5 separate regions of the Homo sapiens genome follow, and all the other regions are linked to region 2. The links come from fine-mapping of genetic effects on gene expression. A gene starts in region 2. Each other region holds a variant in brackets. All regions are shown on one strand. Distances are from middle to middle. Region 1 overlaps TTC5 (tetratricopeptide repeat domain 5). Region 2 holds the start of CCNB1IP1 (cyclin B1 interacting protein 1). Region 3 overlaps TEP1 (telomerase associated protein 1). Region 4 holds the start of TRP-AGG2-6 (tRNA-Pro (anticodon AGG) 2-6). Region 5 overlaps TTC5 (tetratricopeptide repeat domain 5).

What was found. PIP is the estimated chance that this variant, and not a neighbour inherited with it, causes the effect. A credible set is the group of variants that fine-mapping cannot tell apart.
Region 1: its variant is the best candidate, but not a certain one, in a credible set for the expression of CCNB1IP1 in whole blood (TOPMed, PIP 0.55).
Region 3: its variant is the best candidate, but not a certain one, in a credible set for the expression of CCNB1IP1 in whole blood (TOPMed, PIP 0.73).
Region 4: its variant is the best candidate, but not a certain one, in a credible set for the expression of CCNB1IP1 in whole blood (INTERVAL, PIP 0.71).
Region 5: its variant is the best candidate, but not a certain one, in a credible set for the expression of CCNB1IP1 in whole blood (TOPMed, PIP 0.67).

The regions. Positions count from the first base shown.
Region 1 is chr14:20,297,795-20,303,793 of GRCh38, reverse strand. It overlaps TTC5 (tetratricopeptide repeat domain 5), which reads left to right. Exons shown (of 10, transcript NM_138376.3): 2 at 1,829-1,961; 3 at 2,976-3,187; 4 at 4,346-4,496; 5 at 4,906-4,997. Among named protein-coding and RNA genes, the nearest start is that of TTC5, 5.2 kb to the left of the region's middle. The variant G/T (reference allele first, on the strand shown) is at 2,659.
Region 2 is chr14:20,329,822-20,335,820 of GRCh38, reverse strand. CCNB1IP1 (cyclin B1 interacting protein 1) reads left to right here and starts at 2,542. Exons shown (of 7, transcript NM_021178.5): 1 at 2,542-2,567. RefSeq lists an enhancer at 2,463-2,772.
Region 3 is chr14:20,395,673-20,401,671 of GRCh38, reverse strand. TEP1 (telomerase associated protein 1) reads left to right here. Exons shown (of 55, transcript NM_007110.5): 8 at 91-215; 9 at 531-688; 10 at 4,942-5,051; 11 at 5,723-5,813. Among named protein-coding and RNA genes, the nearest start is that of TEP1, 15 kb to the left of the region's middle. RefSeq lists an enhancer at 1-1,043. The variant C/T (reference allele first, on the strand shown) is at 2,915.
Region 4 is chr14:20,611,361-20,617,359 of GRCh38, reverse strand. It overlaps TRP-AGG2-6 (tRNA-Pro (anticodon AGG) 2-6), which reads left to right and starts at 3,888; the gene lies at 3,888-3,959. It overlaps TRT-TGT3-1 (tRNA-Thr (anticodon TGT) 3-1), which reads left to right and starts at 3,498; the gene lies at 3,498-3,570. It also overlaps the pseudogene RPS26P9. RefSeq lists a silencer at 3,822-4,011 and an enhancer at 4,742-4,801. The variant A/G (reference allele first, on the strand shown) is at 3,428.
Region 5 is chr14:20,291,164-20,297,162 of GRCh38, reverse strand. TTC5 (tetratricopeptide repeat domain 5) reads left to right here. Exons shown (of 10, transcript NM_138376.3): 6 at 717-773; 7 at 1,309-1,455; 8 at 1,637-1,851; 9 at 5,036-5,180. Among named protein-coding and RNA genes, the nearest start is that of TTC5, 12 kb to the left of the region's middle. RefSeq lists an enhancer at 908-2,107. The variant C/A (reference allele first, on the strand shown) is at 2,547.

The DNA of each region.
Region 1 (5,999 bases), 32 kb after region 2:
AGTTTGTGTCAGGATGGGTGGTGGTAGGTCAGCTCATACAGTCTTCTAGGTCATGATAAGGACTTGGATTTTATTCTGTCTGCAATGGGAAACTATTTGAAGGTTTGTGATATGATGTACGTTTTTTATAAGATCACTCCCACTACAGTGAGGAGAATGGGAGAGAACAGAAACAAGATGACTGGTTAAGAAGCTCTTGCAGTCCAGGCAAGTAATGAAGCTGATGTAATCCAGGAATGGTCATAGTGGGATGGAGACAGGTGGATGAATTCAGGATGTGTTGTGAAGATTGTTGATTACACTCGAAGGGAAGTGATTATATCTTTCTGCTGCTATCTATTTAGTTTCAGGAAAGAATAGGATATCTGTTATCTGAAATGCTTAGGACTCGAAGTTTTTTGGATTTTGGATTTTTTTGAATTTTGGAATATCTGCATATACATAATGAGATAACTTGGGGATGGGACCCAAATCTAAATATGAAACTTGGTGGCTTATGCCTGTAGTCCCAGCACTTTGGGAGGCTGAGGTGGGAGCATTGCTTGAAATCAGGAGTTTGAGACCAGCCTGGGCAACCTACGAGACTCTTTTTTTTTTTTTTTTGAGACGGAGTCTTGCTCTGTTGCCAGGCTGGAGGGCAGTGGCATGATCTTGGCTCACTGCAACCTCTGCCTCCCAGGTTCAAGCGATTCTCCTGCCTCAGCCTCCCGAGTAGGTGGGACTACAGGTGTGCGCCACCATGCCTGGCTAATTTTTGTATTTTTAGTAGAGACCGGGTTTCACCATGATGGCCAGGATGGTTTCGATCTCTTCATGATCCGTCTGCCTTGGACTACCAAAGTGCTAGGATTACAGGCATGAGCCACCACGCCTGGTGACCCTGTCTTTTAAAAAAGAAAAAAAAAAAATTGTTTCATTTACACTTTATACACATAGGCTGAAAGTAATTTGATACAATATTTTTAATAATTTTGTGCCTGAAACAACGTTTTGACCGCATTTTGACTGTGTGTCAGGTGTGGAATTTTCTACTTGTGGTGTCAGCGTTTCAAAAGTTTCAGATTTTGGAGGATTTCAGATTTTTGCATTAGGGATGCTTGACCTGTAGTAGAAAAGCTTTGCCTGGTGTGACAGGAAGACTCAGAGGCATTTAAGAGGAAAGAGAATATTTATTTGTAAAAAATCCAAGGCAGCCAGAAGATGACTTGACAAAAAAATCAAACTAAACAAAACCACAATAAGCATTTAAAAGAACAAAATGCTGCAAAGATACCAAAGTTACCAAGTTCAAATTGGTATGTTTGTGGTGGAAAACAATGACTCTCTAACATGTTTATTATATTCACAAAGGTTGTGTTGTATTTTCAGATCTCAGCATATGAAAAATCAGGGATAAAATGGTTTTAGTTGAGAAGTCCAACTTTAAGGGTAAATTTCAAAGTGTTATTCTTTGAGGACCAGGACCATATAGAATGATCTTACTAACTTTTGGTTTATCTTAAGTTGCAGTGTTTCCCTCCTCATGACTGTGGTATGTGAAGTGCTTAGTCATATTAGAAGCCCTGCTGAGGCAGGGAGAGAAAATGGTCATCACAATAGAGACACTGGCATGGGACAACATGGGACCATGAGAGCTGGCCTGGGGTACTGGCTGCTTTTCCTCATGATTTGTGGCATTTTAGTAAACCTGTCCACCTGCCTATTGTGCCATTCATAGGTGAGAAAGAGAATTGGTATTTCTAGACCAAGAGCTGGTATGGCTAGCCAATTTCAAGTTTCCCTATCCAGTGATCTTTCCACTTAATGGTTCCATTGTCATACTTTTTAGGAACTCGTGGATCAGCTCTACTCATTTCGAGACTGCTATTTCGAGACACATAGTGTTGAGGATGCTGGGAGGAAGCAACAGGATGTGCAGAAGGAGATGGAGAAAACCCTACAGCAGATGGAAGAAGTAGTGGGTATGAGCCCTAGAGATTGTACAACCCCCATCCTTCAGTGAAATGTGATTGACCTTTGCTCCCTCCTCATTGACTCTTTGGTATCCTATCTGTTACTGCTATAGGGTAGTACAACGTAATACTACTTCTCAGGGCCCCTGTGCAACCTTTCATTCCCTAAGCCACTTTTCCTAAAATTTGATTATAGCAAATGGCATGAAATGAAAGAGCATACTTACTTGAACTATTGCAGTAATCTGACTTTCTGCCTCTAATTTCTTTTACTTTCAAATCCACTTATATAATACCATGGCCATGGCTATCTTTCTAAATCATTACTTCATGCATTTAACCTTATCCTCTCATCTGCCTTTTTGCTCAGGTATCTTTAAAGATTCCTGCTATTGACTAGCTGAAGTCTAACCCCCTTAACCTGGTATTTAAGTGTCCATTGTTTTACTCTGTTTTCTAACCTTATCTCTGACTAATTACTTGTAGAGGAACTTTCTGTTTCATCCAGGTTGAACTGTCTATTCTCCCATGAACATGGCCACATGTACTTCTGATTCTGTGTCTTTGTTTATATCATTTTCTAACCTGGAGGGTCTTTTCTTCTCTCTCTCTGTTTTGTTTTAACGATAACTATTTGTCCTGACTCATCTTCTCTTCACTTGTTAAAGCCCATTCATTGGGCTAATGCCATATGCTCTTTTTCATG[G/T]TTTTAATTTTCCATGTTTACGCTTTGTCTTCTCCACTAGATTGTAAACCCCTCTAGGAAAGTTAGCAACCGAGCTGATCCTTGTAGATAGGGGCCCAAGAAACAGATGGCAGAAGCTCTAGAAATAGTGCTTTCTTTGTTGCCTAATTAGCTAACATACACTCTGCCTATGGTGAGCTTTCAATAAATGGTTTATTGATAAATATTTTCCCCAACTCTTTTTATTCCTAAAACTGACGTGTAGTTATTTTTTGAGAGAAAGTGCCCTGGTCTTTAACTTGTTTTTTTCCCACTTTATCTTTTTTTCTTCCTCTTAGGTTCTGTCCAGGGCAAGGCACAAGTTCTAATGCTAACTGGGAAAGCACTAAATGTGACTCCTGACTATAGCCCTAAGGCTGAGGAGCTTCTGTCAAAGGCTGTGAAGCTGGAGCCCGAGCTGGTGGAAGCCTGGAACCAGCTGGGTGAGGTGTACTGGAAAAAAGGGGATGTTGCAGCTGCCCACACCTGCTTCTCAGGAGCCCTCACCCATGTGAGCTGCCCCCTATCCCTTTGGAAAGCAGAGATGGGAAGGATGAATTTCTTTGGTTCTATGAGTTTCCCTAGGACATGAATACCAGAGTAGAACTGAAATTGAACTAGGACAGAATCAGGAGGGAGGAAAGGTCAGAGAGCAGACCTGAATGAGGAAAATAGAGGCAGGGGCCTGGGAAAGGAAGATGATGATGGGATCAGGTTCAGGGGGAGAAAGGAAGTGAAGAAAAGCTAGCAGCTAAGCTGATCCCTGTGGATGGGGGTTGAAGATACAGATGGCAGCAAGAATTTAGATGAAAAAATTAGGGCTGGGTGTGGTAGCTTACACCTGTAATCCTAGCACTTTGAGAGGCCGAGGCAGGAGGATCACTTGAGCTCAGGAGTTTGAGACCAGCCTAGGCAACATGGTGAGACCTTGTCTCTACAAAAAAAAAAAAAAAAAAAAAAAATATATATATATACATGGACCAGACGTGGTGACTCATGCCTGTAATCCCAGCACTTTGGGAGGCCAAAGTGGGGAGATCATTTGAGGTCAGGAGTTCGAGACCAGCCTGGCCAACATGGTGAAACCCTGCCTCTACCAAAAAATACAAAAATTAGATGGGCATGGTTGTATGTGCCTGTAATCCCAGTTACTCAGGAGGCCAAGGCACAAGAATCACTTGAACCCAGGAGGTGGAGGTTGCTGTGAGCTGAGATCGTGCCTCTGCACTCCATCAGAGTGAGACCCTGTCACAAAAAGAAAAATACGGCCAGGCGTGGTGGCTCACACCTGTAATCCCGCGCTTTGGGAGGCTGAGGCAGGCAGATCACTTGAGGTCAGGAGTTCAAGACCAGCCTGGCCAACATGGTGAAACTCAGTCTCTACTAAAAATATAAAAATTAGCCGGGCATGGTGGTGCATACCTGTAGTCCCAGCTACTTGGGAAGCTGAGGCAGGAGAAAGACTTAACTCGGGAGGCAAAGGTTGCAGTGAGCCGAGATCACGCCATTGCACTTCAGCCTGGGTGACAGAGCAAGACTCCACCTCAAACAAAACAAAACAAAAAACTTAGAAAGGTAAAAAATTAGATTTAGAAGACTGAGTTCAGAATAGATCTGGAAAGGGGAGGTAGAATCAGGAAGATTGAGTATGTGCCCTTCCTATTTGCAGTGCAGGAACAAAGTCTCCTTGCAAAACCTGTCAATGGTGCTTCGTCAGCTGCGGACTGACACTGAAGATGAACATTCTCACCATGTCATGGACAGTGTCCGACAGGCTAAGTTGGCTGTTCAGATGGATGTCCATGATGGCCGCTCCTGGTGTGAGTGCTCTCAAAAGATCTCCAACAGGTTTCTAGAGCAGATGTTTTCAATCAGAGCAACATTTGCAGTCCCTCTTTTGAGTGTGATTCTGAGGTTTAAGCCAGAGAGGGCATCTTTGTTTTGAAGACACACGAAAGACATTTTGGGGAACTACTTTTCTAGGAACTCTTCGATCTTTTGATCCTAGTTTTCACGTAAGCAAGGAAGGGCTTTTGTACAGTCTGTTCAAACTTCAGTTTGGTGTCCTTGGTGCTCTATCCTAGTGGAGTTTTGGGTATACTAAGTATCGTGTCATTCCTGGTTTGGATTTCTTGTGGGACCTTTCAAATATACTTTCAAGAATGATCAAAATAAGTCATATCTTGAACTTGGACTCTGAGATGATTTGTCACTGTGTTTCTCTTTCAGATATTCTTGGGAATTCATATCTTTCCCTTTACTTCTCTACTGGCCAGAACCCTAAGATCTCCCAGCAAGCCCTCAGTGCCTATGCCCAAGCAGTAAGTACTTATGGTCACCAGGCCAGATGAATAGGCAACAACAGAAGCAAGAGCATTGTTCAGTCTTCTTTGTGGCCCTTTAGCAAGCATCATGGGCAGTGGCAGTGTTTGCTGGCATCTCATTTTTGTGATTTTGCAAAGATGTGTCTGCAGAGATGACTGACTTCTTATAACTTGAGTGTTAGGAACCACTTGCATCGTGTCGCATTGGTGCTGGATAGCTCCTTGACCTGTCTGGGTTTCTTACACACATATATAACCAAATCACAGAGCTGCCTCAACATGTTCATCTTTTTTAATGGGAAAAAAGTCTATTAAAATAATACTTATTAATATTTTTGTACATTCATTTTAAAGAATAATGAAAACTTATACTTCAGTGTAAATTAAGTGCTATCCCCAAATTAACCGTTAGGTAATATTATGGCTCTGGATTTCCCATGGGCTAAAAGAGAAAACAATGTGTAGCTTGTTCTGTGTCATTTCCTAGGAATTAAGTGAATTAGGTTATTTAGGTTTTCAAGAAATTTATTTAGGTTTTCAAGCATTTTTATGTTGATAGGCATTTGCATAGGGCTTTCCCTCAGACTTTGAGTGCCTTTTTTCTCATTATTAGAATTGGCTTCTGACTTCACATTGGTCCTCTGAGCACTTTTTATTTAGCTCTCATATTTACCTTTCTTCTTTTGCTTCTCTTGATATAGAGAATTGCTTTTTAACTTATCATTACTTATTCTGCTCCCTGTGGTAGAATAAAGAACACAGTTACTGTATGTTCATGTTTGCAATTCAGGGACTGCCCTTTTAAATTGGTTTTTCTCCCCCTCCTGCCACTCTCCCCACAACTCTACCTTTGACTTTAAACTGCCCTTTTTCAATCACGGAACTTTTAGAGCAATTATATTTTACTCTAATTTCTTAATTTGGTGAATGTTTACATTTTAAAGAATAGTGTGGTATATTCCTTCAACATTTTATATTTGGCTTCTGCTAAATAGTCAC
Region 2 (5,999 bases):
TCTCCTGCCTCGGCCTCCCAAGTAGCTGGGATTACAGGTGTGCACCACCATGCCTGGCTAATTTTTTGTATTTTTAGTAGAGATGGGGTTTCGACATGTTGGCCAGGCTGGTCTCGAACTCCTGGCTTCAAGAGATCCACCTGCTTCGGCCTCCCAAAGTGCTAGGATTACAGGTCTAAGCCATCACACCAAGCCTGGTTTATTTATTTATTTAGTTAGTTTTTGAGACAGGGCCTCACTCTGTCACTCAGGCTGGACTGCAGTGGCACAATCTTGGTTCACTGCAACCTCCGCCTCCCGGGTTCAAGTGATCGATCCTCCCACCTCAGCTTCCTGAGTAGCTGGGACTACAAGCCCATACCACCATGCTCAGCTAATTTTTGTATTTTTAGTAGAGACGAGGTTTTGCCATGTTGGCTAGGCTGTGGGGTAATTTATTTTAAAAAAGAAATTTATTTTTTGCAGTTATGGATGCTGTGAAGTCCAAGGTTAAGGACTGCCTCTGGGTTGCATCTGAACTCCTTCTTGCTGGAGGGGACTCGCTGTGATGTTCCAAGGCGTGGCAGGAAATCACATGGCCAGGATGCTGAGACTGCTAACATGCTATCCTTAAGTCTCTTTGCCTTTTCTTTAAAGCCACTAGTTCCCCTCCCATGATAACCTATTAATCCATGAATAGATTAATTTATTTATGAGGGCAGAACCCTCATGATCCAGTCACCTCTTGAAGGCCCCACTTCTAATGAGGATTAAGTTTCAGCCACTTTAGGGATTAAGTTTCAACATGAATTTTGTAAAAGGTGAAAGATTTATGCGATATGAAGAGAAACTAGAGTGACAACATGAATTTTGAAGGGGACAGTCAAACCATAGCAACTGGGATCTGAATCCTGACTTTACCACTTGCTAAATAGACAAATTCCTTAATCTCTATAACTCTGTTTCCTTTTTTTTTTTTTTTTTTTTGGTGAAATAGTTATAATGAAAGTGCTTACATTCTTGGGTTAATGTGAAGATTAAACAAGGTAATGAATATTACATTTCTTGAATATTTATAGTAAACATTCAAGAAATGTTTTGACTCTAGAAGTTACAATAAATCAATTATGAAATAACAAATTAGCATTTGATGCTAAATGTTGGGAAATTTGGGGCAGGTAAACTCTAAAGTGGATTGGAATAGGTAATTTCTAGTAAGGTGGAAGCAGGGTGGATAGGATGAAATGATTAAAAAATGAGAACTACTATGAGTTAGAGTTGTATCATTTCTCCATATAACTTGAATCTTTATACTTCAAACATTTGCACATTACATGTATATTTGTACATATAACACATACTTGTATATATATTCCCTATTACTATAATAGTATTTATTAAGAATAATGATGAATATTGTGCCGGGGAGTCCTCTAATTATGGCTTAAAAAGAAATCTTTCAGCTTGGGCAACATGGCGAAACCCCATCTCTACAAAAAAATACAAAAATTAGCTGGGTGTGATGGTGCACGCCTGTAGTCCCAGCTACTTACTGAGGCAGGAGATCGCTTGAACCTGGGAGGTCAAGGCTACAGTGAGTCGAGATTTCACCACTGCACTCCAGCCTGGGACACGAAGTGAGACCCTGTTTCAAAAAAAAAAAAAATTTAACAGAGTAAGAACCTATACTTTAACTGGAGGGCGATGTGAGGAGTCAAAATAATTGATTAATCAATTATGTCCTCAGCATTGAAAGTCATTGTTTTTGTCTGGAGATGTGTAAAACGTACACTTTGATCTCCAGTTGTTTATAGTCTACTTGGGAATATAAATCTAACAAGAAATATGTAATAACAATAATAACAGCTAACATTGTTGAGTACTGTGTACCGGGCATTGTACTGAGTACATTATATAAATTATTTTACTTAATCCTCATAACCATCAGAGTAGGAAGATTTCATCTTTTTTCCCTCTTTTTATAGTTGGAACTGAGGCTTAGATGTGTGCAAATAAGTGGCAAGGTTCAGATTCAAAATCAGCTAAATTTTATTTGAAGCCTAAAACACTTAACCCACCTACCTTTTATCTACTAAGCCTGTTAGTTCAAAGATTACCTGAAGGTAAATTTTATCAGGCCAGCTTTGGATCTGGGGGGAAAAAATGAAGGTAAATTTTAACTTGAATCGATCTAGACTGTTTATAATGGAATCTGTTGCCTAGCATAAGTTAAGCATGTTGAGGTCACAAAGGATAAGAAATTACCCTTAAGGGATGAAAATTCTTTAGAATAGAATGCAGTAGGCCCACGCAAACAACAACGTGTATAAATAGCTTAAATTAGCCTGTTTTTGCCTAAGTACATTAACTCAAAAGGAAACTCGGTTTAAGAAGTTCACTCCAAAAATAGTGCAAGAAGCATCACTGGTCCATAAAGAGGGGTGGAGTGGGTTACGTCATTTCAGCACCTTTTAAGGTAAAGGAGGAGGGAATCCTCTTGAACTCATTAGCCAATCAGGTTCTGAAGACACTTCCCAAGGCGACTTCCTGTCTCTCCACTTTCTTTCCCTCTCCGTTTTGGTGGGCTGGTGAGTGTGCGCTTAATTTTGCTCTCTAATTGTTTTGAATTTCTCTTCCATTTGAGTTATATACCCAGGTGGCAGGCCTTTATTTCAAGTCGGCATAGGAGTGTGTGTGAGTCGCAAGGAGATTAATTTCGGCTGTGTGGAGGTTGGGAGAAGGCAGTGAAATGCTCTTCCTGGCTTGTTTCCACGTGGGCCTCTGCAGTACTGGGTTTGCCTTCCGTCTCCGAGTCCTGGTGACCCAGGAACAATAGACTGTGCTTCATGTGCACAGTGCGTGTGTTCTTGGAAAACGCCGGCTTCATTTTGCTTGGCGGGAAAGATATTATCATCCTAATGCTGTTTTGATTTATATCTCCCTGGGTGAGGTCAGATTTCGGGAGAAGGCGTTCAGCTCAGTAGAGTTTAATTCTCCGGTGAGTGTCTAGAGGGCCCAGGTCCTTACTGGGTTTGTGGAAGCTGCAGCGTACCTTGTCTTTCTCCTGGCCTTCGCTCAGATCATTTCGGCTTTCTTGGTGAACCTGGGCAGCAAACTCTGAAGACAGATAAGCCTTAAAAGGAGCTCCTAATTTTTAATGTTGCCACTGTGGTGATTGTGTCCTTAAAAGCTATGGAAAAAGATTAGGGACCTTAGTTCAGGGCAAGCCTCTAGATTTAAATTCCAGCGCCACAGTTTACAGCTCTGGTGACCTTGGGAGAAGCAGTGAGCCATTCCGAGGCTTAGCTTTCCAAGATCAGATAAAATATATAAAAACTAGGCTCTAGTTGGTGTGTAATAAATGTTAGGTACCTTTAGAAGTAAGCAGTACTTATTTATTTACAGCAAGTATTTTGGATATCTGTTTTCTCATAAAAAGTTTGCTTAGTGACCTTCAATGTCATTTCACTGAATTCCTTTCTTTTGGTACATGTTAATTTTAATGTGATGTTTGTGTTGGATATTCTTATAGGCAGAAAGTGTGAGAAAGACAAATAATAAACCAGTTAATCGAATGTAGTAATAGGTATTTGTAGGCCTCCCATAATTTTTATAATTCTCAAGCATTGTTAAAATTTATTTTTTGGGGCATGGCGGCGCATGCCTGTAATCCCAGCTACTCGGGAGGCTGAGGCAGGAGAATCGCTTGAACCCGGGAGGTGGAGGTTGCGGTGAGCCGAGATCGCGCCATTGCACTCCAGCCTGGGCAACAAGAGCGAAACTCTGTCTCAAAAAAAAAAAAAAAAAAAAAAAAATATATATATATATATATATATGTATACACATCATATATATATATATTTTTGAATAGGTAATACATTCACATGGTTCAAAATTCAAAAGATATCAAAGTTTCTTATCCCCTTCCCTAAGCCATCCAATTCCTCTCCCTCATAACAGTGTTACTAAGATATTTTATGCATATAAGCAAATATGTGTAGGTATCCTTCCCTTTTACTATACCTACTCTACTATGTGTCTTACTTTTTCCACTTAAGTTCCATGAGTAGAGTGTTCACATTCTTCATAATGGTAACATAGTATTCTTTAAAAATTATTTTTTTTAAAAAATATATTTTTTCAGTAGGTTTTCAGGGTATAATGGTAACTCAGTATTCTAATTTATGTACCTACTATAATTTATTTAGCTTTTATCAGTAGGTATTCAGATAGTTTATGATCTTGATATTTCCCCCTCAAATGAATAACCTTGTAAATCAGTCAGTTGGCATAAAGGCATTTCAATTGGGTTTTGGTATATTCTTGTTTAAAAGGACTCTAGATATTTTGCAGTGCTTCCTATTTATATTTATTTTGTACACGGTGGTGATTAGAAACCAATCAATACTCTAAACTTGATTGAGCAATAAAGGATTTTCTACCGAAAGGAAAATCATCTTGATGGCTTTTATGTGAATATATCTTTGCCCACTTTGGTTTGAGTGGGGATGGTTTATCTTGTTATGAGCATGTGTTTAATGCTGGGAAGGAGTGACAGCAGTGGCCCAGAACAACCAAGTCATCTTTGTATTCACAGGGGCAGAAAGGGCATGCTTTCAGTGTTTACTTAGAAAATGTGTGCTGGATATGCCCCTGAACTCATGGTGTTGAGGGCATATTTTAGTATTAAGTTAGGAAAAGCTGAAATGTATTTTAGGATGTAAACATGCAAAATAAAAAAGGAAGCCTTTGGGAATTTCTCCAAAGCTGTTTTAGTCTTAAGAGGCTTAGTTCCGGTTTTTTAGGTGGAAGTTTTGTGAGTTGGGAAAACATTACATTCTTTCCAATGGAAGCATGCTTTTGTTAATAAGACTTCATAATACATTGGAGTCTTCATTGTTAAGTAGGAAATGAGGGGAAGGGGGAAGCAAACCTGTGTCTTTTTTGCTTGAAGGACAATATGGCCGGGCGCGGTGGCTCACGCCTGTAACCCCAACACTTTGGGAGGCCGAGGAGGGTGGATCACCTGAGGTCGGGAGTTCGAGACCAACCTGATCAACATGGAGAAACCCCGTCTCTACTAAAAATACAAAATTAGCCGGGCGTGTTGGTGCATGCCTGTAATCCCAGCTACTCGGGAGGCTGAGGCAGGAGAATCGCTTGAACCCGGGAGGTGGAGGTTGTGGTGAGCCGAGATCGCGCCATTGCACTCCAGTCTGGGCAACAAGAGTGAAAAAAAAAAAGGACACAATATCTTGGAGTTGGAAGGGCCCTTATGAGTACTATATGAGTGACCTTTCTGGCTTCTGGGTTATTGTGAGAAGTGTGACTTTTTGTTGTTAAATTTGTTTTTATTGTAGATTCACGGGGTACATGTGCAGGTTTGTTTCAGGGTATATTGCATGATGCTGAGGTTTGGGCTTCTATTGATCCTGCCATCTAGGTAGTAAACATTGTACCCAATAGGAAGTTTTTCAGCTCTTGCCCCTCTCTCTCTTTTCCTCCTTTTGGAGTACCTAGTGTCTATTGTTCCCAACTTTTTGTTCCTGTGAACCCAGTATTTAGCTCCCTACGCAAGATTTAGCTCCCAACGCAAGATTTAGCTCCCACTTATAAGTGAGAACATGCAATACTTGGTTTTCTGTTTTTGCATAAATTCGTTTAGGATAATGGCCCCCAGCAGCATCCAGCAGCTCCAGTTGCTGCAAAGGACATGTTTTTTGTTTTTTTTTTTTTTATGGCTGTGGAAAAGTGTGAAATTTTTAGGCAGAATATTTGCCTTTCTACTCACTAGCTGGTTGAGCTTGGGCAAGACATAGAAATAACATATTAAACATTTAACTCCATGCCAGCTACAGTGCAAAATGTATTTATTACCTCAGTCTTCACGGAAGTTTTAAGAGGTATGTAGTATTTGTCCTCATTTTACAGAGGGGACAGCTGAAGTTTAGAGAAGTTGCATAACTTACCCATGGGCACAGCAAATACATGAGAGAGCCAGGATTAAAATCTAGTTTAGT
Region 3 (5,999 bases), 66 kb before region 2:
ATCGGATGGTCTTACAATCTGCTTTATTGAAGAAAGTTCCCATGGTCATGGATGAAAGGACCCCTGTGGGACTTGGGGATGTTTCCACAGTTTGAGAAGGCCGGTGATACAGTGTCAGAGAAAAAGAATCCTCCAAGGTTCACCCTGAAGAAGCTGGTTCAGCGACTGCACATCCACAAGCCTGCCCAGCACGTTCAAGCCCTGCTGGGTTACAGGTGAGAAGCTGCACCCTGAGCATGCATTCCATCTAAGTAATTCCTTAACTTTTCAACATCCGTGGCCCCCATCCCAGTAGTTCTCAAACCCAGCAACATGACTTTAGACAGACATGCCCTGTAGACATGACTGCCTTTCCAATTGCTGCCTTTCCTTTTCTGACTCACCTGTAAACATGACTCACCTTTCCTTTTCTGAGTTATTTTTAGGCATATTTGGGCAGACATGCCCTGTAAACATGACTCACCTTTCCTTTTCTGAGTTATTTTCTTGCTGACTCTGAAATGATAGACCTCTTTCTTACCTATCCTCAGATACCCCTCCAACCTACAGCTCTTTTCTCGAAGTCGCCTTCCTGGGCCTTGGGATTCTAGCAGAGCTGGGAAGAGGATGAAGCTGTCTAGGCCAGAGACCTGGGAGCGGGAGCTGAGCCTACGGGGGAACAAAGCGTCGGTCTGGGAGGAACTCATTGGTAGAGTGACCTTGACCATCACATTCCCTCCTTCTCTTCCCCATTTATGCCTCCACATTTTAGATCCTCACTAGAAGATTTCTGTGGAATGATGAAGTTATTACTTTGCCTGGTTGTTGTATTTGATTTATAAGGTCTGCCATTGACTACACCAAAGTAAACAGTGGTACCTGCTTTGAGTAATGTTGGCATCATAGATCATTATACCAGATGTAGTTAGGTGATGTACAAGTTTTTATCAACATATGACAAAAGTACCTTCTCTCTCATTGTACTCATATCGATATCTCTGTAACTCATTCCAAAAAAGGTAGGACTGGCACATGGCATATTGGAATCTGTACAGAACCTCATATTGTATTTAGGACATGGAAGTTTTAGGTAATTTGCCCACATTGATACAGAAAAAAAAAAAGTCAAATAGAGGAGGATCAAGTTATCTTCAGTTTTCTCTTTCTCTGTTTTTTTTTTTTTTTTTTTTTTTTTGGTCTACTTTTACCTATAGCAGGCTCTTTCTTTCGTTTTTTACTTTATAAAATTATTACTTTTCTTTTTAAATTTTAGAGACAAGGTCTTTGTAATGTTGCCCAGGCTGGTCTCAAACTCATGGCCTCAAGCATTTCTCCTACCTTGGCCTCCCAAAGTGCTGGAATTATAGGCATGAGCCACTGCACACACACACACACGCACCCACACACAAACACACATACACACACACACCTGCCCCCAGTTGACAGCCTCTTCTTCCCTGATGGTTGAAACCACTTGGGGTGGAGTAGAATAAAGGGGCCTGGATAGAAGCCGGTATATGTAGATAATTCTTTTTTTTTTTTTTTTTTTTTTTTTGAGACGGAGTTTTGCTCTTTTTGCCCAGGCCGGAATGCAATGGCGCAATCTTGGCTCACTGCAACTTCTGCCTCCTGCCTCAGTCTCCCGAGTAGCTGGGATTACAGGCGCATGCCACCATGCCCAGCTAATTTTGTATTTTTAGTAGAGACGGCGTTTCACCATATTGGCTGGTCTTGAACTCCTGACCTCCAGTAATCCACTCGCCTCGGCCTCCCAAAGTGCTGGGATTATAGGTGTGAGCCACCACGCCCAGCCATATGAAGATAATTCTATATGCACCCATCTCCACTTCCTCCCTCTGGTTGAGAACCACTGTCCCTGAAAATGTAAGGACATGTAAATTTATTCTTTTAATGTCATTTATCCTGGTTGAGGCAAATGCCCATAGTCTAATCCCGTGGTGGCTAGTGTTTCTTTTTTTTAATCATATACTACAAAAACAATTTTTAGGATACACCAGAATATATGTATATGTACTTTTTTTTTTTTTTTTTTTTTTTTTAAGAAACAGGGCCTCACTTTGTTGCCAAGGCTGGTCTCCAATTGCTGGGATTACAGATGTAAGCCACTGTGCCCAGCCAAAAATAAATATAAATAAATAAAAGGAAATATAAAAAAAGATATAAGTATAAAATATAAGATAAAATGTAATTGGATATACAGAACCCTTTTTGAAGACCACAGATCTCATTAATAACTCATTAACATTTTTTTGGAATGAAATTAGTGAATTTTGCAATCTTAAGGATAAATGTCCAGTTTATTTTCTAATATCACCAGTATGATATTGGACTTAATTTCTTACCGAAAATGATCTAGAAAACCTTTTATACATAGTAACAGTGGAAAAAACTTGAGTCGACAATGGATGCAATAGTTCATTTATAGTACATATACAACCTAATTGTTCCATACAGTTTGTGAATCAGAATTATGACTGGAGGCCAGGCACCATGGCTCACGCCTGTAATCCCAGCACTTTGGGAGGCTGGGGCGGGCAAATCACTTGAGCTCAGGAGTTTGAGACCAGCCTGAGCAACATGGTGAAACCCCGTCTCTAACCAAAAATAGAAAAATTAGCTGGGCATGGTGGTTGATGTCTGTGGTCCCAGCTGCTTGGGAGGTTGAGGCAGGAGGATTGCTTGAGCCTGGAAAGTGGAGGTTGCAGCGAGCCAAGATTGTGCCACTGAGTGACAGAGACAGACTCCATCTCAAAAATAAAAAAAAAAAGAATGATGACTGGAGAATCCCAAGACTTCCAGAGGGCTGAAAGCTTCCAGCTATAATTCAAATAAGACTTACATCCCCTTTACAAAGGGAGCAGCATTTACCTGATGAAGCTGCTGATGGTGTGGGCTGGTGCACAAGGCATGGTGA[C/T]GGACTGACCGGCCTGGCCTCTAAAGTGGTTTGAATGCACCTCTGTCCAGGAAAAGAAAATCACACCTCCTATTTATGTTTACTTTTATCTAAAAGAAAAGAATTTTCCCAGTACTTACCATGCAGATTGAACCCACATAGTCACTGAATCCATATGATACAGTGTTATGTGTTACGTGTAATAGTTGAGGTTTTCTGAGCATCCACAATCTGAGGGCATTAATGTCACCCCTTCACTCTTTTTTTTTTTTAATTTTGGTTTCTATATAATTTGACTTATAGCAATTTATCTTTCAATTGTAGATGGATTTGGAATTATATTATTCAGTATTAACCAAATTAACTGTCTAAAATTGATATAAACCTTTTTTTTTTTTTTTTGGGCGGAGTCTCACTTTGATGCCCAGGCTGGAGTGCAATGGCGCGACCTCGGCTCACTTCAACCTCCGCCTCCCAGGTTCAAGTGATTCTCCTGCTTCAGCCTCCTGATTAGCTGAGATTACAGGCGACCACCACCACGCCCGGCTAATTTTTGTATTTTTAGTAGAGATGGGGTTTCACCGTGTTAGCGAGGATGGTCTTGATCTCCTGACCTCATGATCCGCCTGAGTCGGCCTTCCAAAGTGCTGGGATTACAGGCGTGAGCCACTGCACCCGGCCTAAAATTGATATAAACCTTAAAAATATTATTATTAAGAAACTATGGGCTGGGCATGGTGGCTCACGCCTGTAATCCCAGCAATTTGGGAGGCCGAGGCAGGCAGATCACTGTAGATCGGGAGTTTGAGACCAGCCTGGCCAACATGGTGAAACCCCGTCTCTACTAAAAATACAAAAATTAGCCAGGCATGGTGGTGAGCACTTGTAATCCCAGCTACTCGGAGGCTGAGGCAGGAGAATTGCTTGAATCCAGGAATCAGAGGTTGCAGTGAGCTGAGATTGCACCACCACACTCTAGCCTGGGTGACAGAGTGAGACTCCGTCTCAAAAAAAAAAGAAAAGAAACTATGGCTTGAAGATAATATTAATAACACAGGTACAAGGGAACAATAAGGAAGTGACAGAGGTCAGTGGTGAAATTCTATCTCCAGTGCAAATCTTTTTCACCTATATTTAAGCAAAAAAAGTAATGACTAATCAAATAGAAGAAATTGGGTGAGAAGCTTACAAATTATGAAGACTATTTCAAATATGGATTTACATACATTCGTCATTATAAATGGTGAACTTTTTTTTAATTTTTTTTTTGGAGACAGAGTCTTGCTTTGTCACCCAGGCTGCAGTGCAGTGGCGTGATCTCGGTTCACTGCAACCTTCGCATTTTGGTTTCAAGCGATTCTCCTGACTCAGCCTTTCGAGTGGCTGGGATTAGAGGCACCAGACACCACGCCTGGCTAATTTTTGTATTTTTGTAGAGACGGGGTTTCATAAATGGTGAACCTTCTTTTAAATGGATATTGTGCCTTGAAATATTAACTAATGAATGTGCTACATTATGTTAGTATATACTTCATAAATCAACTTACACTACGAAATTTCTCTTTTGGCCATCTAAAAAGTTTAGAAACCTTTGCTCTAGACTAGATAATACATTTTGCCAGTTGAACCCAATCTTAGGGCTAGAGCCAACAGATTAAGTGGTAACATAACAGCCATCCCATAAACAGTGTTGCATAAATTTTGTTCCAAACTTTGGGCCAACCCTGTTTTTAATCTTTCCAAGCCTTTAAAACATTTTGAGTAGGGTAGATTGTATGTGAATTCCTCACTTCCTCTATCTTGGACTTTCCACATGCCTGGTTTCTGAACTTCTTGCTCTGGTCTCTGACCTCTCTCTAATCATCCCTCATTTGCTTTTTTTTTTTGAGACAGTCTTGCTATGTTGCCCAGGCTGGACTCTAATTCCTGGGTTCTGGGCTCAAGTGATCCTTCTGTCTCAGCCTCCTTGGTAGCTGAGATTATAGGTGCATGCCACTGTGCCTGGCCTTCTCATTTGTTTTTCTCACTCTATGCCCCACATTCCACAGAAAATGGGAAGCTTCCCTTCATGGCCATGCTTCGGAACCTGTGCAACCTGCTGCGGGTTGGAATCAGTTCCCGCCACCATGAGCTCATTCTCCAGAGACTCCAGCATGCGGTATGTGTGAGGGGCTGGTAGCCATGGGGCCCAGCAACTAGATGTGCACGTGGAGAGGCCACTGCTGCTTTAGAGGCCAGGCTTTTTCAGGGGGCAGAGGCAGGTACGGCCCTCAAGCTGTTTCCATGTGGGCTGTAAGTAGATCTGGGAATACAGCTAGGTTGAGGGAGATAAGTTTTGGGGTTCAGTAAATCCTTTGAGAAGTTACAGTAGAGTATAAGAACTTTCATTTTAATTTTCTGAGCTCAGTGACTTACCAGGAAGAGACACTTGTGTGATGTAACTGATTTCAGAAGGAGTCTTTGTTTTTTATTTATAGAGATGGGGTTTTGCGATGTTGGCAAGGCTGGTCTCAAACTCTTGAGCCCAGGCAGTCCACCTGCCTAAGGCTCCCAAAGTGCTGGGATTACAGGCGTGAGCTACCACACCCTGCCCAGAGGGAGTCTTAAAAGAAACGGGGCTCCTTCTGTTACTTTCTCTTCTTTTGTTACCTTTTCTCACATCCTAAAATGATGACTTTTTTCTTTCTTCTTATTACCCCTTTTCTATATCTCTTGTCTAAGTTCATTTTGTCCTTCTGTACCTTCCCACAAAGCTAATAGAGTGGACCCCTGAAGCCCCCCATACTCCCGGCTCCTGTGCTCATGACCCCTCCCTCCTTTGCTTTCTAGAAGTCGGTGATCCACAGTCGGCAGTTTCCATTCAGATTTCTTAACGCCCATGATGCCATTGATGCCCTCGAGGCTCAACTCAGAAATCAAGGTATTCTCCCCTTTCTTCCAACTCCTCTTTGCCTCCCACATCTGACAATAAATGAAGCAGCAGCACCAATATTTTTAGCCTCTTGCTTTGCAGTCTCAGGGTGTATCGGGGTGGGGGGCAGAGGTCAGGCACTTGCCAGCCCCAAGGGTTGGGGCTCAGGTCACATTACTGGTAGGAAAAGATGAG
Region 4 (5,999 bases), 280 kb before region 2:
CCTTTAAGCCAGACTTTTAGGAAGTCAGACCACTATCTCTAAGCAACCAGCCCAGGAAGCCAAACAATAACCTCTGTAAAAACCAGACCCAGTGGCTAGGAATTTATGAATAATTAACACCTTTCCTATTATTTGTTTCTGTTTCCAAGTTAGCATCAACCAGAGAAAGCCAAATATGCATCCCTAACCAATCACATAGGATGCCCCGCTTCTAGTTAGCCTGCCCACCGTGTCCCCATGCCACAGTCTCCAGTCAGGGCACACTTGAAGGCTTCCCTTTGTCCACTATAAAGTTTTCCCACTCCTCTGCTTGCCTTTGAGTCTCTGCCAAATCACAAGTGACGTTCTTTTGGGTCCCCACTTCCAAGATGGCAAAGAAAAGAAATAACAATGGTCATGCCAAAAAGGGCCACAGCCACGTGCAGCCTATTTGCTACATGAATTATGCCCTATGCCTACCCAAAGGCAAGACTATTAAGAAGTTCATCATTCAAAACGTAGTAGAGACTGCACCTGTCAGGGACATTTCTGAAGCTAGTATCTTTGACGCCTATGGGCTTCCCAAGTTGTTCGTGAAATTCTGTTACGGTGGGAGTTGTGTCATTCACAGCAAGGTAGACAGGAATTAATCTTGTGAAGCTTGCAAGGACCGAACACCGCCACCCTGATTCAGACCTATGGGTGCTGCCACATGACCCCTACCAAAGCCCATATAAGAAGGTGAGTCCTTAAGGATTGAAGAAAAACTCTCTCTAGAGAAAAATAATATGGAAATTATATTTTTAAAAAATCACAAGTGAAGGCTGCTAACTCCTTTGCTATAGAAAGCTCTGAATAGCTTTTGCTGGTTCTCATTAACTGGTGTTCATTTATTTCCACATTAGGATTAAAGTTTTTCCAAATGAAAAGTTGAGGGGAAATGGAAGAAATACAGACAAACAACAAAAAAAGCAATTAAAAATATTGCTAAGATTACAACTAGGGGTCAAGTTGCTCAGCAGAGGAAGTGCTCAGGATGGGCCAGAACACACTGGAGCACAACCAGGTTTGCTGATGCTAAGTCTAATAAACTAGTAGAAGGGGCTTTTGGAGTTTCGTAGCGTCAGACACGCCAACTCGAGTGAATTGTGGAGTAAGGGCCTGGAAGAATGAGAATGTAACATAAGGTCCTGGGACAACCTTTGATGGTAGGAAGTGGGCTGAATGTGGATAGGGTCAATTGGTCAAAGGTTTATTTGTACTGATAGAGGAGTGAGAACCCTCTCCGCAAAGCCAGCCTCTGTCTAGCAGAAACCAGAAACATCAGATCCATGGTTGTTGCCCTGGCTTCTCTCCTTGGAATACTTCTTTGAATATTTTAAATTATTATTATTATTATTATTTTTAGACTGAGTCTGGCTCTGTCGCCCAGGCTGGAGTGCAGTGGCGCCATCTCGGCTCACTGCAACCTCCGCCTCCCGGGTTCAAGCAATTCTCCCGCCCCAACCTCCCGAGTAGCTGGGACTACAGACCCGTGCCACCATGCGCTAATTTTTTGTATTTTTAGTACAGATGGGTTTTCACCGTGTTAGCCAGGATGGTCTCAATCTCCTGACCTCGTGATCCGCCCGCCTCAGCCTCCCAAATTTAAATTATTCTTAAATGAATAACAGTCTGTGGTTAGAAGAGAAGAAATCAATTCATGTAGGGAATAGAAGTGAGCTTGCCAAATTGTGACAGGGTGAGAATGAGGGGACAGGTTCTAAGAGAAGGTGAGGGGCCATCATGAATACCATCAGAGAAAGACAAGCAAAGAGAGGAGGAGAAACAGCAAAGAGGAAGAAGGCCGTTTGAGAGACAGTTTCCACTGCTTAGTAATTTTGCCTATGGCCAGTCTCTCTGAAAATAATAATAATGAAGATAATACTAACAATGATGATAATAATAAACACCTATTTTGAAAACAGGGACGTTGAGACCTGGCAAAGTTAAATAACCGATTTAGGTTTTTTCTAACCACTGCACTACATACTCTATGTCTATACATGCCAACAGTCACACATCAACTATGACCAAAAGTTTATTTTAATTTGACTTTTCTGCTCTAGAAAAAAGGTAGGCGTACTTGTGTTCCCCTGACGTAAAAAAAAAAAAAAGGTAGGCAACCTGCCATTTCCTTAAGCTATGAGGTGTGTCTTTAGGCCCAAAGAGAGCATGTTAGAGGTTTTCTCCAGTGAAGTGTCTTGTGTAGGCAAATAGAGTATAGAGACTCAATTTTTAATTCAATCAGTTAAAACAAAGCCTTGTAGTTCTCTTGGGAGCAGAAGACTGAGGGTTAAACACCCAGGAGCAGTAGAAGGAACAGCCCTTGTCAGGCTACAAAATATATGTATTCATCTCACCTTAGGACAACATTGTGAGGCCTCTTCCTGACTCATCCCTAATCCAAGAAAATCTGCCACAAATGCCTTACTTTGCCTATCTAAATAGAGCACTTTTCTTCCTTGAAAATGTGTAAGGTCAACAGCATCATGTTTTACGTTTAAATAATGAAAAATAAAGGAGACAATGAATCATAATAACCTTACAGATTTCTTACAAATTTTGTGATCTTGGACATGAAAGCACTAAAAAATAGTGAGTATAAGAGCAGAGCTGTGGTCAGAGGGTCTAAATCTTACTAAGCAGAGTCGCGTCACTTCTTGGTGTTTCATGAATCAGTGCTTATTTTCCAATGTTCTCACCTACGGCTTATTTGCCGTAAGAAATGGGTACGAGATCTTTCTTAGTTAAATAATTGTTTAGTTTCTGTTCACCAGCTTATATAAACAAGGTTTCTAAAAATTAAAAACAATCTTTTCTAAAAAGTCGTATTATTTTCATACCAACTATGTGTAAATCTGTGTATGTCTTCAGGGAAGGATTAAACTCTTCTTCCTCAACACCCCTTTTCCCTGTTTGCTTCTACCTCTGGACCTTGGAAGAGTGAGGGATTAACTCCAGAAAGAGTTAACTTTCTTTCCTCTGACCACAGAAAACTCCTCCAAGTTTAGAGGTTTAGGGATCTGGATTGAGAAAGGAAAAAGCCGTGGAAAATCTCTTCTCACCTCCGTCCCTGGATTTTACCACCATATTAAGCGGAAGGCGAGCACTACAATTTCCTTGTCCATCAGACGCCCTCCATAGACGCCTCATATTTCGGGAGGTGTGTGTGGGGGGGGTCGCCCTTGTACCCAAAGATCTGAAATTCTTACATCAACACCGTTTCCATGCACCACAGAGGCACAGTAGGCAAAGTCTCAAGAGAGTATCACGGTGAGGAACGGGAAGACAGCCTGATAGTTGCTCTGCTCAAAGCAGAACCTTTTCGAGGGATTTACAGAGCACGAAAATGTTTTCATTTTGTAGGAGAATATCCTGGAATTTTACTCAAGCTAACATCCTATTC[A/G]GTAGCCGGAATGCTAGGAGCATAACATCAATCTATAAGATGAAAGGAAGAGAAACTAAAAGCAGACGAGGGCTCCATAGCTCAGGGGTTAGAGCGCTGGTCTTGTAAACCAGGGGTCGCGAGTTCAATTCTCGCTGGGGCCTGTGTGTTTTTTCCTCCTACCCACAGGGATTTCCACATCAGGAGGTAAGCGGGGTCGGACAACGCGGCAGCAACGTGACTGCCGCTTGGCACATCTGCATGTCTTCGGCGCCTCTTCGGCTGTCATTTAGGCTACGGGGGTTCACGCCTGCTGCAGAAGCTGCCAGTCTCAATGACTCTTGGGGCGTGTGGTTTACCTCTACTATTCAAATAAGTACGCATTCTTGCCGATAGAAGGCACCCAAGAACCTAGTTTATCAGAAAAATGCCTAATGATTTGAATGAGCCTTAGTGCAAAACTTAAGAGTATCTGTATCGCGGCTCGTTGGTCTAGGGGTATGATTCTCGCTTAGGGTGCGAGAGGTCCCGGGTTCAAATCCCGGACGAGCCCTCGCTCTTTTCAACTCAACAAGGTGTGTCTTGTTTGAAAACTTCACGACTGCACTTTGCTGTCCCTGTATACCGTTCTTTGAAAAATTGCAGCTATTAACTCCCCAGGGATGTGAAGAAGCAAAGCACAGAAAACCCCAGGTTATCCTTCTTATTCTCTCTGACAAACTGTAACACATCTTCCTCTCCCTGCCTATCTCTAGCAATCCTGTCAAGTCAAATAAAACAGTCTATGCAAAGTTGCTCGGAAATTTTAGCCCTTGGTAAACACAAGGAGCTGCTTTCTTTCCTGGGAATGAATTGGGAGCTGACACATACTAACATTGTCACCATGTGTAACTGTATGATGTGTTATCTTTTAAAAAGGGGTTTACATGTTATTACATAATATTGCCTTTTCTTCTCCTTTTCCTTTCTTTCCTTTTTCCCCACCCTTTCTGGTGTTTGTTTGTTTTGTACTGTGAGGTAGGCAATGAATTCTGTTAACTCCAGTGGAGCAATAGAGTGATGAGAGAAAGTGTATCTCCAAAGGCAAATTTTGAAATGTTAACTTTAAAAATAATGTTTTGTGGATCCTTAGCAACTTTCTTTAGTGTGTGAATAACTATTACAGAATAAAACGATTCCATTAGAAGTGAACTATATCCCTTCCTGGCAACAGATGGACTAACTTACCCACATCGACACTCATCATCTCTGTCTTCTGTCTTGTTTCAAGGCCCATCTTTCACTTCTCATATTTGAGGGCAGCTCCTTCAGTTTCACATCAGATGAATTTCGCATTTCCTCTCCTTCGGGTAAGGACTTGGTTTCTGAAATCAACATTACCTCCGCTCCTCCACCCCCAAGCCCCTAACAACACACACAGCAGCTATTTCCCCCAGTGTGCCAATCATTTCCATTAGCATACAAACACTAAACAGCTGCAGTATCACCAATCCTTTAAAAAAATTCCTTCTTAGCCACTCTTCCCAATTCTCTTTATTCTGCATAGATAGAAAAAACTTCTTAAAAGTTATGCACTGTGTATCTCAACTTCCTCCCCTCATGCTCTGTCCTCAACCAAGTATGATCAGGCCTTTTTTCTCCACCACGCTACTTGAAATGGCTTTTGTCAAGGTTGCCAATGACTTTGATGCTTCCAGATCTAAAGGTCACTTTTCAGTCTTCGTCCTACTTCATTTCTCATCTCAGGAGGCTACTTTTCAGTCTCTTTTAATGGCTCCTCCTTTCCTGACCTCTCAATATTTGAGTGTTATCTTGCTCTCCCCTTGCCAATTTTTTTTATCTCTCTATACTTATCAAGTCATGAGGCTTAACATAGCATCGTATACTGATGATTCCTATTCATAAGCCTTGATCTAGATTTGTAGATATAGTCACCTGCTTGCCCCAGCATGTGAACAAGTTATAGGCATCTCAGAATTTACTTGTCTCAAATGATACCCTTGATTTCCTGCCACTTCTCTTCCAATTGCTCTCCAACCACCACCCATATCTCAGGAAACAAATCCATCATGTATCCAGTTTCTCCAACATCACATCCAATCCACTGTTCTATCTTCGTCTATTTCCCAACACACTCATTATCACCCTGGTCTAAACTCTCCTTCATCTCTTACACATCCCAATGATAGCCTTCTAACTCATCTTCCTACTTTTTCTCTACTCCCTATTCTAGAGAACAGCCAGAGTTATCCTATTACAATGTAAGCCAAACAATGCTCTCCTCCACTTAAAAGCACCCAATAACTTCTCACATTTAGAACAGAATCTGTGATCGAGCCCTTGTGTGTTCTGATGGTGTCTGTCCCTCTGATCGCAACTGCTTACCCCCTCCTCCTCCTTCTCACTCACTGTCTTCTAGCTATACTGGCCCTCCCACTGTTCCTCAAATCCATGTGCCTTGTTTCTTGTTCCGGACTTTTCATGTACTGTTTCCTTTGTCTAGAACATCTCACTTTCTCAAATATTTGTATCCCCCTCTCTCTCTCACTCCTTCTGTGCTCAAATGTTACCTCTTTAGAGACAACTTCCTTGA
Region 5 (5,999 bases), 39 kb after region 2:
TGTGTCTGGAGCTAGGTTTATGGGCAGAGGAAATGCATTAAATGAACACCATTTCTATCCTAGCCTTTCTTCATTTATTACCAGCACTTCACTATTTAAATTTTTAAAAATCAAAATGATTTCACCTATTTCATTCATTTATTTATTTTTTTTGAGATGAAGTCTCACTCTGTCACCCAGGCTCGAGTGCAGTGGTGCAATCTCGGCTCACTGCAACCTCCACCTCCCATGTTAAAACAATTCTACCTCAGCCTCCTGAGTAGCTGGAATTACAGGTGCATGCCACCATGCCTAGCTAAGTTTTGTATTTTTAGTAGAGACAGTGTTTCACCAGGTTGGCCAGTCTGGTCTTGAGCTCCTGACCTCAGGTGATCTGCCAGCCTTGGCTTTCCAAAGTGCTGGGATTACAGGTGTGAGCCACTGTGCCCGGCCCACATATTTCATTTATATAAAGATTTATTCTATCTTAATACTACTACATGGATAAATTATAATAATATTTTGAAGTCTCACACATACAAAAACACTTATATCCCTAAGGTTTTGGGACTAAGATATCCACACTGTTATACGGTAACTGCTTCTGTGGTATAAATACCATTTTGGCAAGGAAGAAACTTCCATTTCTCTAGAAAGAGGAGGCGTAGGACATGTTGGGCATGTCAGTCCTTAACATTGAGACAGGATCCACTGATAATCTTTTCATCCCATTATAGGAGAAAGTTGACAGAAAAGCTTCTAGCAATCCTGACCTTCATCTGAACAGGGCGACGGTAAGACCTTTGGGGTGTAGTCATCTGAGGGTCAAATAAATAAGACACCTATGTCTTAGCTTGTGAGGATAACTGAGTTTGCATAGGGACAAGATTGGGTACAGACTGCGAGAGGAAAGCCATGCTATTTCTATAAATAGCTAGCTCGGTTTGGCTTCAGTATCTGGTGTAGTCACTGGAGGGAAAGGAGAAGGGGCTGTGGAGGTGGAAGAATAGGTAGAGAATGGGGGGATCTTTTAGAAGACTTCTGAAATGTTAAGTAAATATAAAGGTCAAGTGAGCCAATATATACAACTTAACTATTTTAGAGTTTGGAAATTAGCTTCTTTGAAATGATTCCATCTTTGGGGTTGTGATCATCTTGGCTAGGAAGAAGGATGTAAGGTGTTACCAGCTCTTCAGGCTGTTTGTTGCAGCACAGGAAAATAACCAGGAAGGAAAACAGTTTATTTCTCTAGATTCCTAGCCCATGGTGCCATTCCCTCGGGATAGTTTGTCTGGATATACTTATAATTGGGATACACTTCTTGTACAGTTGCATAAATATGAAGAGAGTTATGGGGAGGCCCTGGAGGGCTTCTCTCGGGCTGCAGCCCTGGACCCTGCCTGGCCAGAGCCCCGGCAACGAGAGCAACAACTTCTGGAATTCCTGGATAGATTAACCAGCCTCCTTGAGAGTAAGGTAAAAATGTCTGAAGGGCTGAATTCCACTTTTTTTTTTTTTATTTTGTCGTGGGTCAATAAAATAAGAATAAATAGGTTTACGAGGTAGAGACCCTATAGAAGTGGGTGGGAGGGAAGGATTAGAATCTCAAGGAAGGCGACTAGTTTCCAGCTTCTTACCTATTTCCCCTTCTTTGCAGGGAAAGGTGAAGACCAAAAAGCTGCAGAGCATGCTGGGAAGCTTGCGCCCAGCCCATCTAGGCCCTTGCAGTGATGGGCACTATCAGTCAGCCTCTGGGCAGAAAGTGACCCTGGAGCTCAAGCCACTGAGTACGCTTCAGCCTGGGGTGAACAGCGGTGCCGTCATCCTGGGAAAGGTGGTATTTAGCCTCACCACAGAGGAGAAAGTCCCCTTGTGAGTTTCTCTTGGATTTCCCCCATTTTACCCTTTTGAACTAATTGCTCTCACTTCCTGTTCTTTCCCTGGCAGTTGAGGAGATTGTCAGTGGTCACAGATTTGTGACTTCTGATTTCCTTCTGTGACTATCCCGTGGGCAGATATTGTCTGGGTGATGTTTAACCATCTTTTGATCAGAGGCTTTTGTAGATTCTGTCACTGCCCATTTTGTATCCCTGAGTTTGGTGCTATGTGGATTCCTATATCCATAGTTGAAATTTGGCAGGACATATTTTTTTATAAGACAGAAACCTCAAAATTCTTCTGTCCCTTTGCATTTTCATGATCATAGAAGTTGAAGGAGGACAAATTTCTTAGTCCTGTTTGTACTTAGGTATACTTAGTTCTGAAAAGTGAGCTTTGAGTTATAATTTAAAGTCTGGTTGGGAGATTGTCTTAGATGTCATTCAACAAATATTTATTGAGTGTGTAATATATGTGTCATAGGGAGTGAGAAAAAAGAAATGTAAAGGACCCAGGTGCAGGTGCTTCTAGCAGCAGAGGAAATGAATTAAGAATATTTGTTTAGAAAATTTTTGGATCTTGAAAAGTTACGGTTTAGTGAATGCCACCACTCCTTGGTCCTTCACTCACTTCCTAATCCCTGGTTGACCGGTTTCCCCTTTCTCTTTTCTACTGAAATTGTTATTTTC[C/A]TAGGATCACCATTGTCTTTCTAGGCACTGGATCCAGCAACTTCTATTGCATGGTTCCAAAACATTCTGACTTATCTCTCACTATTGCTTTTCACATCCTTTCTGTTCATCTAAACAGAAATATTCACAATTCCCATTATATGCCCAAGCTTTCTCCATGGCATTTTCTAGGGGTTTGTATATTTGACGAGTTGAAGGGCAAAAAGATAGTTGAGAACAGTTTAGTTTACTAGAGCAAATCCTAGAGCTGAGAAGAATTAGAAAGGGATATAGACAAAGGTAGGTTTTGGAGGACCTTGAGAACAAATAGATATTTTGCCACTCCTTGGTTTCTCTTTTTCTGCCTAACTTTTAAATCTTAGGTTCCCAGGACTCTATTTTTGTTTTTTTCCTTTTTTCTCTTTATATCAGGATGGCCTATAGTTGCCAACTTTGATCACTTGTCAGTGGTTGCCTGACATACTGTGTAGAAGGATTCTGAGGCTTTGACTGGATTCATCAGGAGAGTGCTTTGCTTGATTGCAATATTTCCTGTGAATTCAGGCATGTCACGTGATGGCATGAGTGTGATTCTTCTCCATCCTGTCTATAGATCATCTTGCCCTGTGATGTCATATAAACCCAAGGCTTTGGCAGCCTCCTATATGCTTACAGATATATCTCCAGCCCAAGCTTCATTTCCAAGTGTTGGATTCCTATAACCATCTGCTTCTGGGTTCCAATAAGAAATCTCTAACTCAGTATTTCAGTATTACTCACCTAAATCTTTCTCTGTAAACCTGCTTCTCCTCCCTGGATTCCTTGTGAATGAATGGTATCACCTCTCAGTCACTTGATTAAGACTTTTGGAAGAATAGGCTTCTCCATTCTCCAAAAAGATTTGCCTTTTTTGTCCTATAGACTTGACTTCTCTGTGTTTACCACCTTAATTCACCCCCTTATCACTTCTCCAGATAGGTCTCCCTGATTCTCTGGTTTCCTCCAGTGTTCCACAGTGCTGCCAGAGAAATGTTTCTTAGATGGAAATCTGACCATTGCTACTTCTTATTTAAGATCCCTTACTGGTACTATATGTAGCTTTTGGGATAAAGTGTGAACTACTTAGGTTAGCATACAAAGTCCTTCATGATTTGCTCCCTGCTTCTCTTTCTATTATCTTTTGTCTCTTTCCCACCAGTGCCTTTTGTTTCAACCATGGAACAATTTTGTTGGTTTTAGAACAGCTGTTTTCATGCCTCTGTGTCTTACATACAGTTACTCTGCCTGGATAATCTCTAGCTTCTTCTTGACATAGCTAACATCCTCTTCTGCCCCCAACATTTTGTATAAAAATTTTCAAACATATAGCTAAGTTGAAAGAGTTTTACATTGAACATTTGTGTTCTCATCCACTTATATTCTACCATTAATATTTTATTTTACTTAGCTTATTACATATCAGTCTGTTTATCCTGCTATCAGAGTAAATTGCAGAGATCAATATACTTTACATACTTTAGCATGCAGTCATTAACTGAGTTCAGTATTTGTTTCAATTTTTTCTTTTTATGTAAAATTTACATACAATGAAATGTACAATTTTAAGCGTACATTTCATAGCTTTTAACAAATGGAAAATATCTGTATAACCCAAATAGAGATCATTACCACCATTCTGGGAAGTTCCCTGATGTTGCCTCCAAGTCAAAATCTCTGTTCCTATCCCCTCAGAGGTTTTTAACATTTTTACCGAGGATTAATTTTTCTCTTTTAACCCAGCTGGTTTTTTACCCTTTAAGATTCACTTTGAGCGTCACCTCTTCCAGGAAATCTTCCCTGCTTTCCAATTTTGATTTAGATATTTGTCCTCTGGGCTCCCACAGCCCAATCTGTGGCTTCATTGAATTCAGCACAAGGGAAAAGCTATTCTAGCACCCATCACACTGTGCTGTAAGTGATGACTTCATTGTCTGACTCCTGCTAGACTATAGGTCATTCATAGCTGGATTGGTATCTTATTGCTAAACACAATGCTTGGCACATATGTAATATTCAGTGAAAGTTTGTGGAGTTAAACTACACAGACAGTGATGGTTAGAGGCTTTGGTTAAGAGTATGATAGTTAAATTGATAGACCAGGAATAATGTTACAACTGTAACATGTTGGTCTAGTTCATCATTAATATTTGTTGAATGGCTTCAGTGTGCTTTGTCCTAAGTTCTTAGCAAAGTGACTGATGAGTTTCAGAAAAATGAAGACTCAGATATATAAAGTGGAAGATGGTACCTCTCATAGGTTTTCTGAGTAACTGAGAAAAAGCATTTGTTTATTTTGTTAGTATTTTATTTTTAAAGTTTAATTAAGTTAAATTTTATATTTTATTTTAATTACCTGTCACTGACTTTAAGTCCAGTATTTTGCTAGTATTTTTAAACCACTGTTTCTGCTCTTCTTTCCTACCCACATACCTTTTTGTTTTCCTCTCTCCTAATCTGTCTTTACTTGGTAGTACATTTGGCCTGGTAGATTCAGATGGACCTTGCTATGCAGTGATGGTGTACAATATAGTGCAGAGCTGGGGAGTGCTCATTGGAGACTCTGTAGCCATTCCTGAGCCCAACCTGCGGCTTCACCGAATTCAGCACAAAGGAAAGGTGAGCAATGGCTAGGATTCTCTTACAACTCGTAGGCTCTAAAAGTAGAACCAAGCTTATCTTTTTATAAAAGATATAGAAATAATTATATGTAAGTATGTGTGTAGGCTATGTGTATATATATTTGTGTGTATATGTTTTATTTATATATATATATGTATTTTTTTACTAAAAAGGTAAACTGGTAAGCAGAAAAATAAAAAAATGCAGTGAAATATTATCACTCAGGTATTACTGCCTTTTAACTGTTACTGTTAACAGTTTGGTGTATATACCTGAAGTCTTTTCTTTTCACAAATATATACACATATATCTATATTTTAAATCATGAGTGGGATATTATATGCAAATGTTTGTGAATGTTTCCTATGTTTTTACATATTTCACCACATTGAGTAGACACGGGGTGATGAAGATGGTAATGATAGTTAACATTTATTTAACACTTAATTGAGTGCTAGACACTGTGCTAAGAGTTTTTATTACCTGCCTTGCCCCATTCAATTCTTAAAAAAACCTTATGAATGTAGATATTTAACTACTGTTTAACCATTTAGATCAGAGGTTGGCAAAGCCCATTGACCAAATCTGGCTCACTGCTTGTGTTTATTAATAATGGTTTCTAGGCTGGGCATGGTGGCTCATGCGTAAAATCCCAGCACTTTGGAAGGCCAAGGTGGGAGGATCACTTGAGCCCAGGAGTTTAAGACCAGCCTGGGCTATATAGTGAGACCCCGTCTCTACAAAAAAATGTTAAAAAACTTAGCCAGGTATGGTAGCACATGCCTGTAGTCCCAGCTACTAAGGAGGCTGAAGTGA